Linked DNA regions of Homo sapiens. The protein of the gene in region 3 interacts with the protein of the main gene of each other region in a biochemical or structural test. Each region holds a gene or a part of one and is shown on either strand. Other genes may lie near its edges.

Evidence for each region. The genes of interacting proteins can lie anywhere in the genome.
Region 1: the proteins of SMAD3 (region 3) and SMURF2 form a complex in vitro, tested with the Homo sapiens proteins (2 studies listed by BioGRID and IntAct, with this or other methods).
Region 2: the proteins of SMAD3 (region 3) and NEDD9 form a complex in vitro, tested with the Homo sapiens proteins (2 studies listed by BioGRID).

What each region holds. Positions count from the first base shown.
Region 1 is NC_000017.11:64,652,308-64,659,307, forward strand, and holds part of SMURF2 (E3 ubiquitin-protein ligase SMURF2), read right to left. Parts: intron 1-7,000. UniProt on the Homo sapiens protein: E3 ubiquitin-protein ligase which accepts ubiquitin from an E2 ubiquitin-conjugating enzyme in the form of a thioester and then directly transfers the ubiquitin to targeted substrates.
Region 2 is NC_000006.12:11,229,669-11,236,593, forward strand, and holds the start of NEDD9 (enhancer of filamentation 1), read right to left. Parts: upstream 3,001-6,925; 5' UTR 2,848-3,000; coding exon 2,836-2,847; intron 1,043-2,835; exon of another isoform or gene 771-1,042; intron 1-770. UniProt on the Homo sapiens protein: Scaffolding protein which plays a central coordinating role for tyrosine-kinase-based signaling related to cell adhesion. As a focal adhesion protein, plays a role in embryonic fibroblast migration.
Region 3 is NC_000015.10:67,180,602-67,187,601, reverse strand, and holds part of SMAD3 (mothers against decapentaplegic homolog 3), read right to left. Parts: intron 6,362-7,000; coding exon 6,149-6,361; intron 2,876-6,148; coding exon 2,738-2,875; intron 583-2,737; coding exon of another isoform or gene 472-582; intron 238-471; coding exon 93-237; intron 1-92. UniProt on the Homo sapiens protein: Receptor-regulated SMAD (R-SMAD) that is an intracellular signal transducer and transcriptional modulator activated by TGF-beta (transforming growth factor) and activin type 1 receptor kinases.

The DNA of each region.
Region 1 (7,000 bases), on a different chromosome or scaffold from region 3:
CCGCTCCAAAGCACTACAAGATCCTAAATCAAAGACTCAATTTGTTTGAAAGCTGCTTTATTTTAAAGCTATAGTAATCAAGACAGCATAGTGTTAAAACAAATAAACTTAAAGGGTAGAATCATAAAGAAAACACAGGAGAGTCCAGAAATAGAATTCTATGTATACTGTCAACTGATTTGTTTGTTTGTTTGTTTTGAGACAGAATCTCGCTCTGTCGCCCAGGCTGGAGTGCAGTGGCACAATCTCAGCTCACTGCAACCTCCACCTCCTGGGTTCAAGTGATTCTCTTGCCTCAGCCTCCCGAGTAGCTGGGATGACAGGCACCTGCCACACACCTGGCTAATTTTTTATTTTTAGTAGAGACGGGGTTTTGCCATGTTGGCCAGGCTGGTCTAGAACTCCTGACCTCATGTGAGCCTCCTGCCTCGGCCTCCCAAAGAATAGGCATGAGCAACCGCACCTGGCCTGTCAACTGATTTTCTACCAAGGTGCCAAGACAATTCAATGGAGGAAACAAAAGTATTTTCAACAAATAGGGCTACAAAAATAGAATATCCATATGAAAAAAAAATCATGACACTTACTTCTCACAGCATATTAAAAAATTAACTTGAAAATAAGTTTAAATGTATGAGTTAAAATTATAAATAATGCAGAAGAAAACACAGAGAAAATCTTTAGAACTCTGGGTTAGAAAAAGACTTAGGACTCAAAAAACATGAACCACAAAAGAAAAACACTGATAAACAGGTTTCATCAGCATTCAAAACTTCTTCTCTTTGGGACATCTTTTGGGGGGCGGTGGGGGAGCTACAGTCCGGGAGAAAATATTTGCAAAGTATATATCTCATAAAAGGCTTATATCCAGAATACATAAAGAATTCTCAAAACTCAATAAGAAAACAATCCAATTTTAAAACATGAACAAAAGATTTGGATATTCACCAAAGATTATATGGACAATAAATAAGTCCATTAAAATGTGCTTAAAACTGTAGGTTATTAAGGAAGTAAAAATTAAAGTACCATGAAATATCTGTACCTACCAATTAGAATGGCTAAAATCAAAGACAGTATCAAGTGCTGACTAGGATGAGGAACTACTGAAACTCATACAATGCTGGTAGAAATGCAAAATGGTACAACTTTGAAAAAAAAAAAATTTTTTTTTTTGAGACAGAGTCACCCACACTAGAATGCAGTGGTGTGAGCACAGCACCGCAGCCTTAACTTCCCAGGCCCAATCAATCCTCCATCAGCTTCTCAGGTAGCTGATACTACAGGCACAGGCCACACCCGACCAATTTCTGTATTTTTTGTAGAGACGGAGTTTTGCCATGTTGCCCAGGCTGGTCTCAAACTCCTGGGCTCAAGCAATCCGCCCAGCAGATTTTTAAAAAGTTAAAATGCATACTTTCTGTATGATGCAACAATCCCACTCATTTACCCAAGGGCAAGAAAAACATGTTCACAAAGAGCCATGTACTCAAATGTTTATTCGTAATGGCCAAAAACTGGAAACAACAAATGTCTGCAGATATTTATAAATGGATAAACAAATTGGTGTACAATGCAGTATTCCTCAGGAATGAAAAGGAACAAAGTACTGATACCCAGCATGAATGGATCTCAAAAGCATTACGCTAAAAGAAGCCTCACCCAAAAGACTGCAGACAGTATGATTCCATTTACTCAAAATCCTAGAAAAGGCAAAATTATAGTGACCGAAAACAGATCAGTGGTTGACAAGTTCTCGGTATTGAAGAAGACAACTGGCTACAAAGAGGTAAGAGAAAATGTTTTGGGAAGAAACTTTTTGGGAAGAAATGGGAAGAACATTGCATGATTGCAATCATCCACGTGGTAATTCCTCCCTAAAAATGAATCATCGAGGTTTATTTAAAAATTTAAACTTTATGTCTGCTACCAATTTTTGTACAAAACCAAACCAAACTGCCAAACTTCAGATTATCTGTTGACACTTTTTAATATAATATCAAATGTGGTTTTAAAAAAGGTAGCCAATGCCATCAGAAGCTATTCTAAAACAGAGTTGGTCTGAAACTATTCTTGTTCAGAAGACTGCTCGTATTTAAAAAATTTTTAATGAAATAAAATTTCTCACTTTGTTCAACTACTTATATGTTGGAGAGAAATCCGAGAGAAAAGAAAAATTTTAAGTGTTAACATTCAACTGTAACAAGTACCAAACACTGACACCTAGAAAACCAGCCATCAGCTGGGTGCGGTGGCTCATGCCTGTAATCCCAGCACTTTGGGAGGCCGAGGCAAGCGGATCACCTGAGGTCAGGAGTTTGAGACCAGCCTGACCAACATGGAGAAACCCCATCTCTACTAAAAATACAGAATTAGCCGGGCGCGGTGGCACATGCCTATAATCCCAGCTATTCAGGAGGCTGAGGCAGGAGAATCGCTTGAACCCAGGAGGCAGAGGTTGCAGTGAGCCGAGATGGCGCCATCGCACTCCAGCCTGGGCAACAAGAGCAAAACTCAGTATCAAAAAATAATAATAATAAATAAATAAATATAGAGATGAGGTCTCACTATGTTGCCCAGGCTGGTCTCGAACTCCTGGGCTCAAGTGATCCTCCCATCTTGGCCTCCCAAAGTGCTGGGATAACAGGCGTGAGTCACCACACCCAGCCAAAATTCTTCTAATCAAGCAAAATACATATAACTGCATTCCTAAATACAAGCAATAACTAGGATTAGAAAACACAACGTAAATCACACAAATATAAATTATCTGAAATTAAATTCAAACACAGGAAGAAAATTATAAAGCTATCCTGAACAATATGGGCCAAAGCTTAAATAAATGTAAAAAACATATCATGTTCCTGGGTGAGAAAACTAAATAAACTTAGATACTTCTTTTTCCCAAAGTAAAGCAATTCTAATGACAATCCCAATGAAATGTCTTTTTTTTTTTTTTTTTTTTTTTTTTGGAGACACAGTTTCACTCTGTCGCCCAGGCTGGAGTGCAGTGGCATGATCTCGCCTGCAACCTCCACCTCCCAGGTTCAAGCGATTCTTGTGACTCAGCCTCCCCAGTAGCTAGGATTACAAGTATGTGCCACCACACTCAACTAATTTTTGTATTATTAGTAGAGACAGGGTTTCACCATGTTGGCCAGGCTGGTCTCAAACTCCTGACCTTAGATGATCCACCATCCTCAGCCTCCCCAAAGTCCAAGGATTACAACCGTGAGCCACCATGCCCGGCCCCAATGAAACTTCTTATTAAACTTAACAAGTTTAATATTTATGTGGAAGAAAAAAATAAGACTACCAAAACAAATGAAAAGAAATTGGGAGGCCAAGGTGGGCAGATCACTTGAGGTCAGGAGTTCGAGACCAATCTGACCAACATGGTGTAAACCCATCTCCACCCAAAAAAAATACAAAAAAAAATTAGCTGGGAGTGGTGGCATGCACCTGTAATCCCAGCTACTAGGGAGGTTGAGGCAGGAGAATCACTTGAACCCAGGGGTCAGAGGCTCCAGTGAGCCAAGATCACGCCACTGTACTCTAGCCTGAGTGACAGAGTGAGACTCCGTCTCTTTAAAAAACTGGCCTAGTGAGAATACTAAACTAAATTATAAAGCTACAATAAAAAAAACAGTATGGCACTGAACAAGAGCTATATCTGACTCTATAACTAATATAACTGAAAAGATACTACATCACTGTGGAAAGGAAGAATTGGTTAATAAATAATGACAAGATGGCTAAATAGCAATTGCAGGGGAAATAGTTTATTAAACCATTTTTTAAAAACATTAAATATAATGTACTTATTTATCAAACTTCTTGGAGAATAAGTTCTTCCAAGTATAGAATAGGAAAAACAAAACAAAAGTTGGACAGATTTTGACTCCTAAGATAACACATTTCTACATGTCCAAACAATGAACAATATTAAAAGACAAATAATTCATCATGGAAATGTTTGTAGCAAATATGACAACAGGTTAATATATTTGTAAGTCTCAGGTAGATCAATAAGAAAAACACTAAGGCTCTAACATAACTAGGACAAGGCCAAACAAGTCAATGAAAATAAATATCATTAGTAAACAGACAGGAAAATATTCTGCTTCACGAATGTTTAAATGGCACATGCCATGAAATTAGCAAAAAATGTAAAATGCAATTAGCTTATACTTATAACAGAATAGTAAAAAGGGACATCTTTATTTACTGCTGCTCTAAATAGGTCCAACTCTTGTAAGAAGCAGCCTAAAGGAAAAATTACTCATGAAACCTTAAAAATATCCACACACTTGAACTCAGTAACACTATTTTTATGGAAGCATCCTAAAAAAAAAGAATCCTTAAAAAAAAAATCAAAGTTACCTACACCAAGATGTTTACAGCAATTATTTGTAATAAAAAATTTGGAAATAAACATTCAAACAAAAAAATCTGAACGATGGTTGCTGTTGAATCTGCTTAACCAGTTATCCTAAAACCAGTCTTCATGGTTCCCATTCCAGTCCATCCTCCATACTGCTCCCAGATTGTGTCTAAACAGCAAATATATTAAAGCTTAAAATCCTGCAATGGTTCCCCCCACCTTAAAAAAAATGAACATCTTGGCAAACTACAGTAAGGTCCAAACTAGGTTGGTCCCTGTCTAGAGCCTCACCTCTTGCCACTCATACCCAATGCATTAGCCATAAAGAACACATGCAGAACTATTCGGAAGTATTTATAGCTCTCCAGCATTCATTAAATAAAATGCCAAAAAGGTCTTAATCCATACTCACACAAGGATGCTGGCTTCATGGCACTTAAAGCATAGGAACAATAAACGCCTACCAGTGGGTTAGGTCTGGTACTAGAAGAGCTTCTTAGAGTCATAGAGGACAGTTCAACTCAGGTCAGGGAAAGTTCTAGGGATAACAGTAATCTTTGAGTTGAGCCTTAAAAGATGGGCAAGTATTGCTAGGGGCGAGGGCATTCATAATTATACTGAGTCATGAATAAAACATTAAGTTCTACTAAGTATGGTCTATTTGAAAAGAGGAGGACATATTACGTCTTTAAGACTCTCACCAAAAAAGGCTCAAATAGGCCAGGCATGGTGGCTCACACCTGTAATCCCAGCACTTTGGAAGGCTGAGGCAGGAGGATCTCCTGAGCACAGAAGTTCAAGACCAGCCTGGGCAACCTGGAGAAACCCCATCTGTACTGGAAAAAAAAAAAAAAGGTAAAAAAATCAGCCAGTCACAGTGGCATGGACCTGTAGTCCCAGCCAGTTGGGAAGCCAAGGTGGGAAAATCACCTGAGCCGGGAGGTCAAGGCTGCAGTAAGCCGGGATTGCTCACTGCACGCTGTTGCCACTGCACTCCAGTGTGGGCAACAGAATGAGATTCTGCCTCAAAAAAAAAAAAGGCTAAAATAAAAATCTTGTATGCCTAAGCATGACCCTTCATTTATCTTTAAAACTGAGTTATGTTAAATGAGATGTTAGTATGTTGTGATAGTAATAGCTCAACCAACAAGAAAAAAGTAAAAGTGATGACTAAAATACACAGACTTTATTACGAATACCAAACTACAAAAAGGACCTTGGCATGTTCTACTGCCTGCCTGAAGAGGGTCAGACTAGAAGACAGAATTTAAAAGAAAAGGAAGGAGCTCAACTACACTGGCTTCCTCCTCAGAAACCAAGAAAATAAAACAAATTGGGGACATTCAAATCACTAACACCTCTAGTATATAAAGTCATTATGGGCCGGGTGCCGTGGCTCATGCCTGTAATCCCAGCACACTGGAAGGCTAAGGCGGGCGGATCACCTGAGGTCCAGAGTTTGAGACCAGCCTGGCCAACGTGGCAAAACCCGTCTCTACTAAAAATACAAAAAAAACCAGCCAGGCGTGGTGGTGGGCGCCTGTAATCCCACCTACTCGGGAGGCTGAGGCAGGAGAATCACTTGAACCCGGGAGGTGGAGGTTGCAGTGGGCCGAGATCAAGCCCTTCAACTCCAGTCAAGAGTGAAACTCCAACTCAAAAAATAAATAAATAAAGTCATTATGATGTATAGGCATACTTAAAAACCTGTGAAATAGAATTAAGCTACAATTTTTAAAGCCTTGAATCGATAAAATATGTAGTGAAACAAGATTAAGACGCTAGCATATCTAAAGGGAAATTTTTAAAGTTAAACTTCCTTACATTATAGACAAGGTTAACCTCCTTATTGCCAAGGGCTTTGAAATTAATAACATGAGAAGCAGCATACAAAAACATTAAATGTATAAAAAGGTCTGAAACAAATGTTCTGGAGGAGTAATCTTATTCTGCTTCTCCATACCTAAGAATTTAAAATATTAGAAATTACACTAAACTGCTTTTTCCAGCCTTTGGTTTTCAGAAACAATAATGGTATAAAAAATTATCCCAAAGTTTTTACTGTAAAGAATATTTTTCTATCCAAACCATTGAAAGAAAAGCCTGTATCAGATATAAGTATAATGATATAGACATTATACATTTTGTAATCAATGTTATAGAAACAGTAGTTGAAGTTGATAGTGTTACCATACAGCCCATTTCAATGATCATATGTTAATGTGTCATAAAGAACAGAAGTAGCTTGATGGATGAAATCAGATTCTAACCCCCAACTGCCTGAGGAATCTAAAATTTGGGATCAAATTATTAAATTAGCCCCACCTTCTTAGCATTGACAAATACCAAACAGTTCACTGATTGTGGTTTTAAGAATAATATGTGGAAAGGTTTAATATCAATTGTGGGCAGAGATCTCATGGCTTAAATATTTCCTCTTCTTCAGAGAGAGTGTGTATGAGTGTGTGAGTGTGTGTGTGTGAGTGTGTGCATCACCATGTAAGAAATGTTTATACCTTTCAGCAAAGGGGCAATTCCACAATAAAGTTATTATCAAGTAACTAAAGTTTATACAGCATCTTGAAATCAAAGGTACTCTATAAATTTAAAATACTA
Region 2 (6,925 bases), on a different chromosome or scaffold from region 3:
TCACATAACCACAGACTGAATCCCTTCTAAGAGAAATGGAAAATTAAGTACGTATGACAGTGACTGCAACCTTCCTGTGGACAAATAAAAACATACAGGGAAATAAAGACAGATTAGATAAGTGCTAACCAGAAATGTCTGTCCGGAGTAATAGCTTACATTCCACAGTTCTCAGGATTACTGCAAGTACCTTGCTGCCTGGCCTGAAGCTATGTATATTAAGTGCAAAATAAGTGAAGGTTTGTTGTTCCGTAGTTGTGATCCCTGGGGCAGCCAAACCAGATAATCAGGTTAACAACGACAATCTTATAGGGCCTGATTCATAAGTCTTTCAGTAAACATTTTAAGGTTTGTGCTAAATTTACAGTGCATAGAGCAACGTAGTATTTTAGAGATAATTCCTGTCTCTGGGATTTTACCATCTAATAATTATCTGGTTTTACTACCTAAGTGGCTCGAATTAAACAAATAACTGCCAAACATGCACTTCATTTTGCTTTGTAGAGTTACTATCTTAAAAAGAAATTATCCTGCAGGAATACTTGGGATGAAATAGTCTTAAACTTTCTGGGAGAAGAAAACACTGGCCATATTTTAGAGAGGTCAACGATAGCTCTTTCTCTTTCTCTTAATAGTGGTTAAAGTCATGAGTTCTGGAGCCAGATCGCCTTAGTTCTAATCCCAGCTCACCACTTTCTAGCTGTGTGGCATTAGATAAATTACTTAGCCTCTCTGTGTCATTTGAAATTGAGTATAAAAATAATACCCACCTTGTAGAGCTATTGGGAGAGTTGAATATGACAATCTTGTGTTGTCACAGTAAGTCTCAATTAATGTTACTTCATTACTTTTGTGTCTCTCCTCTACTTACAATAACAAAATCCTTTCCTGAAGTAAAGTTGTTCATTATTAACTAGAGAGAAAGAAAACTTTATAAAAAAGGAAAGTGGATTTCTTCAGCTATTGGTTGATTTAATAGTCATCATAGGGCATAAGTCATGTGTTCGGTCGGAGAAGTTAGCTTTTTTGCTGGTGAAGGTGCCTACAAGGTAATAAAAATCATGTATTTACATCATTTGGCAAGGTGTTCAACACCAGTAAGGCCCAGTGGAGAAGCAGGTTTCTCCATGAATGCCAATCGCAGTTTACGCTGTCAGTCACTTTATCAGTTGCCTTTAGATTTTCTTTCCATAAAGAGTAAAGCTAACCACGATGAGATCATTGAATAAAAGTGACTTGAGACTTTGTCGCTTTCGTCACTTTCTAGATTATAGCACTCAATGTTAATTTCAGCCATTTATACTTTCCAATAATAGACATATGAACATACTTTCTCTTTTTTCTGCAAGCCAGTTCTTATTCAACAACAGGGAAAGGAGGAGCAAAAAAGTCACTCCAGGCTGAGTAATATCTGGTCCTATCATTGTTCTAAATAAGGAAATATGGGGTGAGCCACTTTAAGGAAGATAACTTTCCTGCCAAGTAGAGGGATTTGTTTCTGGTTGCATCCTAAAGTCAAATATTAATAGTCTTCAGGATGACCCTTTCCTCTGATCTTCCCTACTGATGAAGATAATAGAAAGCTGATGAAACAGAAATAGCTGATACCTGTGTCTTCAGACAGTGGTAACGTAGGCATTACTATAAAGACTTTTGACATTTAGACTTAAAGCTTTTGAATAAGATTCATAGTTTTTGAACAAAAGCTTTATTACTGAGGCTAGTCAGTGGCTATCAGTTAGACCAAGTATTTACAACCTTACATCAAAAAAGGATGGACCAGAAAAATTTAGAAAAAAAGCGAAGTAGCTTCCAGCTAGTGTACAGTTAATATAAATTGTCAATCCACAAGCCTAGCACCCTTGCCCAAATCCATCTTAATAATAACACTTTTGTTTAAAATAGCATAAAATAAAATAGTAGCACTAGCACTCATGTCTATTCATCATTCAAGAAAAATTCATGTCCAATTCATTGCAGTCTGCTTTCTTTGTGTCCCCTGGAAGCTGCTTGCCTCCTTAGATGGGAGTGACTTAAAAGAAAAAGGGGAGGGGGGAATATACGGAGCAAGTCAAAAATCCTTTTGGCAAGAAAAATCCACAAACAATGGTGTAAAATGCATTGGAAAATAATGCTGCTGAAGTACTATGACTATGACACTCTGTAAGCTTTCAGGCACAATGAGCCAGCCTGAGCCTTCGCACTCTCACCCCATTCAAACTCCAATAAAAATGTTTTCAAGAAATGGCTCATACTTATTTATTCCTACATCCAATATAACATAAGGATGTCAAAATTTTCCATCCTCAGCTGTGTAATCTGGGCTTTTAATTTCTCCCACCAAAAGTGCATATGGCATACTCCTTCCGAGACCAAACGATTAAAGCAAAGTCTGGAAAACTTTGCACTAAGAGCCAGTCTGAGACAGACTATGCAGTCCTCATTCCTCTCATTACAGTTCCCCAGGGCAGTGGAAGCCAGGCCTGGGGAAGCCAAGGAGACTTGAGCCAATGCCTGCCGCGATTCAAGTCAGACACCCTCTGATCTCCAGTGGCTGCTGTGAAGCGGCTCCAAGTCTTAACTTCTCACCGAGGTATTTCCCCGGCAACTTTCAGAGCAGATGGACTCGGGTGTACTGTGAACCCCTGGAGTGGGTCTCAAAGACCGGGTCTCTGCTTGCTTGTCTGCTTGCATGTCAACCTCAGTGACCGAGACTCATCTTAGAACTCTCCGGGACACACAAGGGACTGACAGTAAGGAACACGCATACACAAGCACACACCCGCAGGCACAGCTTTCAGCTTGCAAGGTAACCTGTAAAAGGCACTCTCTTACCTTATACTTCATTTCGGCAGCGGTGGGTTGAGCCGTTTTCCTACACTAGTTAAGACAGCATTAAGCACTGCGGTGCCCGCCCCTCCATTGAGTGCAGCGCTAGATGAAAGCGAGAAGGTCCCGGGCAGAGCCGCTTGTCAGTCGCAGCGCCTCCCTCAAGTCTCTGAGCTCACTGTTGTGACTGAGGCAGGCTGATCGCGGACCTCATTTGCATGCCGCCCCGCCATTGGCTAGTGGGACAAGGTAATGCTCAGGCCCTGCCCACCCCTAATTCTGAAAAACTGACAAAGAACTTGTAATGTGATCGCTTCTTTTTGCTTTATCAGACGGTGGAAAATAAAACAGAAAGTGGGGAACCGTCCTGAACCTTACTCTGTCCTCCCGCCCCCGCCAAAAAAGAAGACAGAAAGAGAAAGAACAGGAAAAGGAGATACATTCTTTTTAAGATTAACCCAAATTTTAAAGAAACTGAATTCACAAAAGCAGTCTGACAGTCGCGCTTCCTGTGACCTAGCAACTCCTTCATAAACCCATTTCGTTTCAAAGCCATTCACCTCACAATCTCTACATGAAACGAACTCCGGGAACAAAAGGTTTTCTGTCTCCGGGCCCCTTTTTACTAACCACCCCTGCTGATACCTCTCTCTCTCTCTGTCCCTTTTTCTTTCCCCCTCCTCCCGCCTACTTTTTGTGTGTGTGTGACTGTTTGCTTTTTTTGTTCTTTTCAACGTTCAAAGTACTTTGCGATGTCAGTCTGCAAGGAGCTGGAAGACAATTCTCCCTTAGTGAAAAGGAACCCTCTAGCACACGCACCAGCGTTTTCCTGGACAGCTTCTCACCAGGGCCTCAGAGTTGCGGGTCACACATATTGAGCGACCTTCAGTGGCTTTGCTGAGGATAAAGGTTAGATGTGACCTCTCGGATGGGGTTGGCCAGTGCACGCCCTATACATCATCACCGTCCACTGAGTTCTGTGTTCTTTGACGGCTGGCATTTCTAGCTCCAGCTTTGAACACTGCAGTGTTTTTCCTTCTGACCTCTGTCCTGAGGATGACCCATTAACCCACCAACACTTATTATCCAGGAGAACGAAAATGCCCACTGTTTGATGAGCCTGGTTAAAAAGACCAGTCTCTCTCCAGCGAAGCACAGAACATAATTTCTATAAAGGTTCCATTTTAGGATTTCTATAGAGAAAGAGAATCACCCAGAAAACAGAAATGGTCACCTTCTGCAACTCTTCTCACGGACAGAGCAGTGAGGCGAAAAATTCCTTTTTCCCGGGCAAGACTGAGACTCGGTGAATCCAGACAATAGCTGTCCCTGAGTGGGATGCACTCCAACCAGACTACATGACTTGGATGGAAAAATCAGCCCTTATTTTTTTTTTTCCTGACCAAGTTGGATCAGAATCTGATTCCCTTCGCGTCTAACACACAAATTCCCAATGGATGAAAACTCTACTTTTATGATCTAAGCAAAAGGAATGAGAGAACAGCTGTCCTACAAAAGTGGTTTCCAGATACAGGGTTGGCAGGTTAGTTTGCAGTTCAGTGTGGCACTGATTCCAGGGACATGACCCCCCAGGCCATCCTAATGAGGTTGACATACCTGTTCCAGCCTGTATTAGGCCTTGCTTCTCCTCATTTGTCCTTAGAGCAAAAATAAGCCTGAGTGATTGTGCAAGGCCTTTCTGAACACAAATTAAGCACGCAGCATATTGCATTGTAACGATCTCCTTAAGAATCCTGCAGACTGACCGGAGAGTCGTTAGTTTGCAGGAAATTGTTTTTGGTGTCTACCTGGATAAAGGAGGACAATGATTCAAAGCCCTTCCCATCTGTAAGATGAGTCTTGCGGCCTCCAAGAGATCTAGATAACATTCCTTTGGCTTCCTAAGTGGTCAAGCTGAATCCTTTTTCTGTTTTGTTTGATGAATATCATTGAGTAAGTGAGTGCTGTCCCATCCTATTTTAATGTTTTCAAACAGTTTCCTAAAGTTTGTGCTGGGGTTTTTTTGTAATTTCATTCTCTAGCTAGTGGCCCTCCTGCTTTCCTGTTTCTGTCCTGTAAGGTAAGTAAGACACATGTAATCTACCCGAAGTTCATTTCAAGAAGGCTTGGGTCAGTATATAGTTAGCTGCCTAAAGGAAAGCACAAGGGTGTTGGAATCAGGTAAACCTGTGCTGGAACCTCAAAACATTTTTAATTTTTTTTTTTTTTTTTTTTGAGACAAAGTTTCATTCTTGTTGCCCAGGCTGGAGTGCAGTGGTGCAATATCGGCTCACTGCAATCCCCGCATCTCTGGTTCAAGCAATTCCCTCAGCCTCCCGAGTAGCTGGGATTACATGTGTCTGCCACCATACCTGGCTAATTTTTTGTATTTTTAGTAGAGACGGGGTTTCACCAGATTGGCCAGGCTGGTCTCGAACTCCTGACCTCAGGTGATCTACCTGCTTCAGTCTCCCAAAGTGCTGGGATTACAGGCGTGGGCCACTGTGCCTGGCCAGTTGAACTTCTTAATTTTGATGTCCTTCAGTATGAAATAGAGAAAATAATAATACCTGCTAGCCTCATAATGAGGATTAAATAAGATAATGTGGATAGAATTTAATAGTACTTGTTACATTGTAAGACCTTAAATGGTTGCTTGTTCTTATTACTGTTGTTATTAGTTATTATTTTAATTAATATCAGATTTATGATATTTTGTTAATATTTTATGACATTATTGCTATATTCTATAGATTATTATTTAATTATTGTATTAATTATAACTAGTATTAATATTAGACTACTGTTGATAAGTGTGGTAGGCATTCAGAAGAAGTTGGAGGAACCCCTTCTCTGTGTGCCATTCTTTCATAAGGCAGCTTTCTCACTGAACTGTTATCACTAGAGCACCTAGCATGTGCCAGGTACCTTTCTAGGAGGGGAGGATACAGCAGTAGCCCAGACAAAGTTCCCATCTTCATGGAGCTTACAGTCTAGTGAGAGTTGAGGAAAATAATTAAATGAATGTATAATATGATTTGCAGTGATAAATGCTATGAAGAAAAATTAAGCAGGGAAAATTGCTGGAGGAAAACAGACCAGGGTGGGACAGGAGGTGTATTATTTTAGATAAAGTGGTCAGGGAAGCTCCTCTGAGGAGATGATATTTAAGCAGAAATCTGAATAGTTTCAGGGATCCAGCCACTCAGAGATCTAGGGGATGAGCATTCCGGACAGAAGTGACCCAGGGGAAGGGCCCGCAGTAGGCACGAGCTTAGTGTGTCTAAGCGCAGCAAGCTGTCTAGTGTGCTTAGCGTGGGGTACACAGGGCTGGATGGAGAGGATGAGCTCAGAGAGGTAGGTGGTAGGGAGCTTGGATTTTTTTCCTGAGTGTGACATGAAGCCTCTGCAGTGTTTTGACCAGGGAGTAATCTGTTTCTCTCCGGTTTGTTAAACACTCAAGGACAGCAGGCTACTAGTTAAAATATTGAGCTCTGGTCTTAATGCAGCTTAAATAATGCAGATAGTTGTTACTTTATTAGTGTCATTTAGTATGTTGCCCTTAAAACTCTTCAGGGAAACACAAATTGTCTCAGTGAATACAGAAACAATTCCCTTCCTCATTTATTACTATCAGATGCAAAAATGATGTTTAAACTGGGCTATGTAATTGATTTATGCAGCAGCCCTAGGATTCCCATAGAGACCCTCCTGAAATTGGCTAGAACTCTGGGCCTCCGGTTCCACTTCCTGCACTTGCCAGCACTCCGGTGGGCATCCCCTCCTGTCATCCTTGCCGCCTGCCTGCTCTTCAACCAAGCACTCTTCCTTCCAGATGCTTGTGCAGGCAGGAGTGAGGGAAATGGCACCGGATGCCATTCTAATGATTTTCCAGCTGCAACTGGGCACTGGCATAAATACAGCAAAAAATCAAGAGGAGGCTAGAAAGAAGAAATACTTCTGTTGACAACTTGGAATGAACCCACGTGACTGCTCTCTAAGAGTGAAGGGCAAAGAGTGAAGAGCATGTGAGGGCAGGAAATGACTTTGGAAATCACCTAATCCAGCCACTCATAGAGAGGGCAGAGCTGTCTGT
Region 3 (7,000 bases):
GGCCTAGCTCATCTCTGAGGAGCCCTGCCTGCTCTGCTGTCCAGAGTCACCTGGAGTTGGGTCCCCTGATGTAGGCAGCACCCATAACTGACCTGTACTCCGCTCCCCAGCCTTTGACGAAGCTCATGCGGATGGTGCACATTCGGGTCAACTGGTAGACAGCCTCAAAGCCCTGGTTGACCGACTGGGCCAGGAGGGCAGCGAACTCCTGGTTGTTGAAGATCTTCAGGTTGCATCCTGCCAAAAACACAGAAACAGGGCTGTGGGGATGGAAGTGGCCAGGTCCGTTGCTCCCCTCCTGGATAAAGCAAGTCCTGGACCCCCTAGACCAGCCTCATTTATACAGCTCCAGGGACACATGGTGTGTGATGCATTTGCCACACACTCCACACTCAGTACCATGCAAAGGGAAGGCCAACCCAGTCCCTCCCCTTGAACCCATCTCCTCACTGGGAGGTGCCACTGACATACCTGCAAGGGGAGATGGAAGGCTGGCCCACAAGCTCCGACTCCCAGAGCAGGGAGAAGTCTGCAAAGAGGGCTTCCAAAAATAGGGAGATGGTGTGGAGAGGGGGGCCTTTCCTTGGGCAAAGGGACCAGGGGACAGAGAGATAAGGGACCTGGGCCAGGTTGCCCATGCTGTGTGGGGTCTGGTCACCCACCTAGGAACAGGAGCTCTGGCCGTTCCACAGCAGGCAGTGCCCCCAGAGACGGGCTGGCCGAAAGGCTACTGGGCCTGCCGTCCCCACAGGAAGCTTGGCAGAGGGCCCAGTGCACCCTCCACCTGGGCTCCTCTGATGAATACACCTGGTGCTGGGGCTAGGAGGTAAGGAGAGATCTGGGCCAAATTTTGGCCTCTGGGCACTGGGCTGGGTGGAGGTGACATTCACAGCTAAGTGAAGGTGTGCATCTGATTCTCCAGACAGTAAAACTAAAGACAGTCACAAATAAAGTTTAAAATAAATGTCGTTTGAAGTCTTACTGCCTGAGTGCCAGGAATGTGTCAACCAGAAAAATAAAGACAAAAGCACATGCTGGAAATAGCCAAAAGGTGAGCCGGGGTGACGCTTATGAATGAGCCAACAGCAGGCTCCTGTTCTTGCTGTGTGACTCTGAGCTGGTCGCTTTCTCTTGGGGACCCTGTGTCTCTGTATAATGAAGGGCTGGCCTCAGAGGTCCTTCCAGCTCTGACATTCTATGAGCTGACAAACAACACCACAGCCAACTCAGCCCTCACCCAAAAGATGGGGGTGGGGCCGGGGAATGGAAGAGGCAGAAGGCCAAGAGCGTCACTGAGCTTCCTCTTCTTCATTCTCTCCAAGGACAAGGGTGGTGGAACAGGGCTGAACCTGGGCCCTGACCCCCAGCAGAGCCAAGAAGCAGAAGAGCACCAAACTTGAGAGTCCATCAGCCCTAGGCCCCATCCCGGCTTGGCCACTTACTAGCTGTGTGCGCTTGGGCAGGTGGCTGAAACTCTCTGAACTTGTCTCTCAAAGCGTCTCCTTACTTATAGAGCCAGAGAATAACTGGTGAGGACTAAATGAGGTCAACGATCGGAATGTACTCTATAAATGCAACCACAAAATGCTCTGGAAACCTGGTGTGCTATTATCATTTCAGACTTTCTGCATTCTAAAGTTTCCCCTGCCTGTGGTCTACCACTTCTCCACTACCATCTGCTACTCAGTGGGCAGGAAGGGGCATGCCACACACGTGCCACAGGCAATGGCCTGGCCAGGTTACCTGCTCCACTAGTCTGTCACAGGCCATGTTCTGTGGGCTGCCTACACAGTGGCTGCACGTCCTGTGAAAAGTGGACTTTGGCTGGGGCTTTCTGCCTTGGTTTCCTGAGGAAAGAGGCCTTAGATGGGATCAGCCACCTGCCTGATCTTGCTGTCCAGGCGTGGCCCTGTCCAAACCACTCTCGGGGGTGCAGCCTGACACCTCTTCTTGGGGTACAGGTGGGATTTTTCAGGCTCACTCAGAAAACCCTCAGCAGTTCCCTAGAGTCAAACTCTCTGGTGTCCTTCCACGGCCTCATGCTGTTGTGCTTTTGAAACATTTCCCCTGACGGTCTCATACATGACCCTCCTCCAGCCAGAGAGCTACCCATCCATGTCCTGCCCTCCATTACCTCAGGCCCTTTGCCTGGGCTGCTCCCCCTGTCTAGAATGCCCTCCCTGTGCCTAGTGCCTACCTATCCTTCAGGATCCGGATGTTTCTCCTCCATGAAGACTTCCCTGATCCATCCCAACAGCTAAATGGGCCTTCTCTCTACCTGGGCTGCTGGCTTGGTGCTTGGCACCCGTCCCTTATATTGAACTCATCCGTGTCTTTGTCTTCTGTGCTCTGCAGGCCTGTAAGGTCTGCGGGGGCAGAGCAGGGCCGCATCTACCTCTTCATCCCCTACAGCACCTGGCACAGAGCCCTGCATGCTGTTTGTGCAATGAATGAGTGAAGAAAGGAAGCCATACTGCCTGAGCATCTACGCACAGGGCAACAGGCAGGTACCCACAGGTTAAAGGCAGACCTATCAGATGCTACATCTGCTCCCTGGAAGTTCAGGGAAAGCACAGTTAGATCTGTGGGCATAGAGAAAACCTAATCCAATCACCTCCAGATTGACAACGCAATCATGAGTGAGCAGAAAAGGTGAGAAAGGTGGACTCTCTCCAGCATCCTAGGCATGCACTCGGAGAGGGACCTCAAGGCAGGGGTGCCTGTGCGGCTCGTTTACCTGGTGGGATCTTGCAGACGGTGGCCGGGTGCCAGCCATAGCGCTGGTTACAGTTGGGAGACTGGACAAAAATAGCGCTGTCACTGAGGCACTCTGCGAAGACCTCCCCTCCGATGTAGTAGAGCCGCACGCCTCTTCCTACAGAGATTCAGGTTAGACTGGACAGGGTGCCTTTGCTCACACACAATGGCCCTGGGGCCACCTGAGGCTCGCAAAGGAGGCAGAACAGCAGAGCTGCTCCCAGTGACTGCCAGCTTCCCCAGGCAAACGGGCCCCAAAGCCCAAGCCTAAAGTAGGGGAAATGGGCACTGCCGGATTCCTAAAGCCAAGGGAGGCAGATGACAAGAGATGGGCACACAGGATAGGTCTCAGTGACAGCCTTTGCCACTGAGTAGGCATGGGCCTCAGTCAAGTTATTCACCCTCTGAGTCTTCGTTTGTCTCTACGATAGGGATGGGGGCCAGGCGCGGTGGCTCACACCAATAATCCCAGAGCTTTAGGAGGGCAAGGTGGGAGGATCACTTGAGGCCAGGAGTTCAAGGCCAGCCTGGGCAATGTAATGAGACTTCATCTCTACAAAAACATTTTTTTTTTAATTAACTGGGCATAGTGGCATATCCTTGTAGTCCTAGCTGCTTGGGAGGCTGAGGTGAGTGGATTGCTTGAGCCCAGGGGTTCAAGACTGCCGTGAGCTCCCATCACACCACTGCACTCCAGCCTGGGAGACAGAGTGAGACCCTAACTCCAAAAAAAAAAAAAAAAAGGGAATGATGATAACCTCTACCCTTGCAGGATTACTGTGAGACACACAGTAAGTGCCTGGTGTCAGCTTTTCTTGCTGCTACTGCTACTACTACCCCACTATTATTTGGTCTCTTCACACTCCAAGATTCAGAGATTCATTCAGTAAACCTGCAGGGCTCCTTCTGATGCAGCAGACACCCCAAGGAGCCCTTTATTGCAGGGATGGTTTAACGCTATGCCCTTATTTTTTTCTTCCCTCAATGCATTTTTCTAAAACATTCCAGAGGTTTATATCATTTACTTTTCTTTCATCTCTTAAATCCACTCCAGATGGACAGAAATTATTTTTAAATTGGCTCTGCAACTCAAACAGTTGCGTAAACTCTGACAATGAGCTCTTTGCTCGGCCAGGGGATGGTCCCTTCTCCTGCATGGCAAAGTCTCTGCTCCATTCCTGGGGAAGAAGCTCAGAGGTCAGAACACGGAGCCAGATATTACAGGCCCAGCATCCGGTAGGATGAACACGAGGTGACCGACCCATGCATCACTGGATGTCCCCTGTCCTGCCTCCTATTCCCACTACTGTCCCCTTCCTCCAACCACTCCCCATTTTTTCTGGCTTTAGTTCTGCAGGGTGCTGGTGGCTCAGAGTCCACAGGAGGGATGACTTCCTGGCTGTCCACAACTGTATCATGTCAGTAAGAGCAGAAGGCAGAGGTGGGGATGCGAAGACCCAGACCAAAAATGTTTGTTTCGTTTCAGTAACTTAAAAAAATAGGCCGGGCATGGTGGCTCACACCTGTAATCCCAGTACCTTGGGAGGCTGAGGCGGGCAGATCACCTGAGGTCAGGAGTTCGAGACTAGCCTGGCCAACGTGGTGAATCCCCATATCTACTAAAAATACAAAAAATTAGCCAGGTGTGGTGGCACATGCCTGTAATCCCAGCTACTCAGGAGGCTGAAGCAGGAGAATCACTTGAACCTGGGAGGTGGAGGTTGCAGTGAGCCAAGATTGTGCCATCGCACTCCAGCCTGGGAGACAAGAGCGAGACTTGGTCTCCCCGCTCCAAAAAAAAAAAAAAAAAAAATATATATATATATATATATATATATATATATTTTTTTTTTTTTTTAATAAAATATAGAAAAAAGCCAGTTGCAGTGGTATATGCCTATTGTCCCAGCTAATCAGGAGGCTGAGATGGGAGGATAGCTTGAGCCCAAGAGTTTGCGACTGGGCCTGGGCAACATAGCAAGACCCTATCTCTAAATCAATCAATCAATCAAACAGTGGTATGCCACCCAGAATAAGTATCTTTTTTGAAGTAAAAAACAAAAAGCGAAATGGGAACAACAGGTCTGGTAGTGGTGGCTGTCTGTCACTGACAATGAGGTCTCTGCAGAGCCGTTCCCTACCCTCCCCAACCCCCTAGACATCAGGTCCCTTTCCTAGAAAATGAGAGCACAGACCTAGGCCCATGGCCTCCAAACTTTTCTTCTCTTCACTACAGAATCAATCCTCTCTTCAAATGAAGTCTTCTGTGAGAGCCCGAGATATAAAGCAAGCGAGTGCAGAGGTGCCCTGGTTCACGTGGGACCAGGCTTCCCTTTGCTAACCTGCCCACCTCCTGAGTTTGCCGCAGGAACCCTTTGCCAACCCTTGGGGCTCCAGGACAAGGTCTGAGAAAACCTCACTCTGCCATCTCTCTACAGCCCTTCTAAGTTCTGACAGTTGTGATTCTGGATCGTAAAATCCTCTAAGCTTGATAACTTCATAAGCAAACCAAGTGATGCGTAACACAGCTTCATCTTCCTTAAACTCACAAAGTCATCTTTTACTTATGTTCTGGGGGCTAGAAGGCAGAAGGTTCACAGTAGTGGTGTTTGGATAGTGGACAATTCTTTTCTACCTTTTCTAAATTGTTTAGAATAATGATACATGAAAATAAGAGAAGATCACTCTTCCAACAATGACTGCCTACTTATCAACCTATCCATCTGTACTTTCAGAGTATTTTTATTTAGAGGATTTCAGCCAGGCACGGTGGCTCACGCCTGTAATCCCAGCACTTTGGGAGGCCAAGGCAGGTGGATCACCTGAGGTCAGGAGTTCGAGACCAGCCTGGCCAACATGGAGAAACCCCGTCTCTACTAAAAACACAAAAATTAGCTGGGCGTGGTGGTTGGGTGCCTGTAATCCCAGCTACTTGGGAAGCTGAGGCAGGAGAATCGCTTGAACCCAGGAGGCAGAGGTTGCAGTGAGGCAAGATTGTGCCATTGCACTCCAGCCTGGATAAAGCAAGACTCTGTCTCCAAAAAAAAAAAAAAAATAGATTTCATATGTTGCCTTTCTCATAGACGTTCCCTTCTTGATCCCTTAGATGAACTATTTTCCTCTGTGGCTTCCAGATTTTCTGAGATTATATCTTTGAGTGGGAATGATCAAGTGGCCTGAACACTACCTGTCTGGCCCCTAAACAGGGCAACAGAGAGTGTAGGGGACTTGCTGGGGCAGTGAGTCTTCCCCCATGCCCAGCAGGAGGCAGAGCACAGCTAAGGATGGACGCAAGGTTCCCTTCAGAGGCTGTGTGTTCAGGCCTGGGGCTGGGGGTGGGATAGAGTGGCAGGGGCAGGGTGGGGGGGCGGGGAATGGAGCCACCCCATACCGATGTGTCTCCGTGTCAGCTCCACTGCTGCATTCCTGTTGACATTGGAGAGCAGCCCTAGGCAGAAGCGCTCCGAATTGGAGGGGTCGGTGAAGCCATCCACAGTCATGGATGGCTGCGAGGCGTGGAATGTCTCCCCGACGCGCTGGTTCAGCTCGTAGTAGGAGATGGAGCACCAGAAGGCCGGCTCGCAGTAGGTAACTGGCTGCAGGTCTGTGGACACAGGGTGGGCTACTGGGTCATTGGGTGTCCCAAGCCCCATGCTCCCTCGATGGGGTCCCATGGACACTCTGGAAAACCATTTCCCCGCATTTCAGAGGGATTATAATCTCCCTACCCCATGCCTTTTATCGTATAAAACTGGCAAGAGCCACCAGAACAAGATGCTCAGGTGTCTGGAGGAGATTCCATCAGCCTTGTGTGTAAAGGGCCATTGATTTCTCTTTTTATTTATTTATTTATTTATTTATTTATTTATTTAGCTCATAAAGGCCCTGCCCCGCCTGCTTGGCCTTGACTGGATGGAAGGAGTCTTCAAGGAGGGGCTGGGCCAAACCTGAAGAGGACCAGGGGCCACCCAGTACCTGGATGAACCTGGGACAGCCACTGCGTGTACTCACTGTGGGGCAGGCCACACCTCCTGCACAGTCACCTCTCAGCCTCTGTTGCAAGGTCCCCAGAGTAACCCACATTAATCCCTGCCCCTAAAAGGGCTTTCAGATTTTGGCTCTGCACAGCCTTGGGGGCAAAAACTCCCAGCCTGTGGAGCAGCAGCTTCCAAGCCTGCAGCAGCCGAGTGGGTTCCCAACAGCGCCCCATGTTGGCGCAGTGGACACACCAGGCATCATCTGC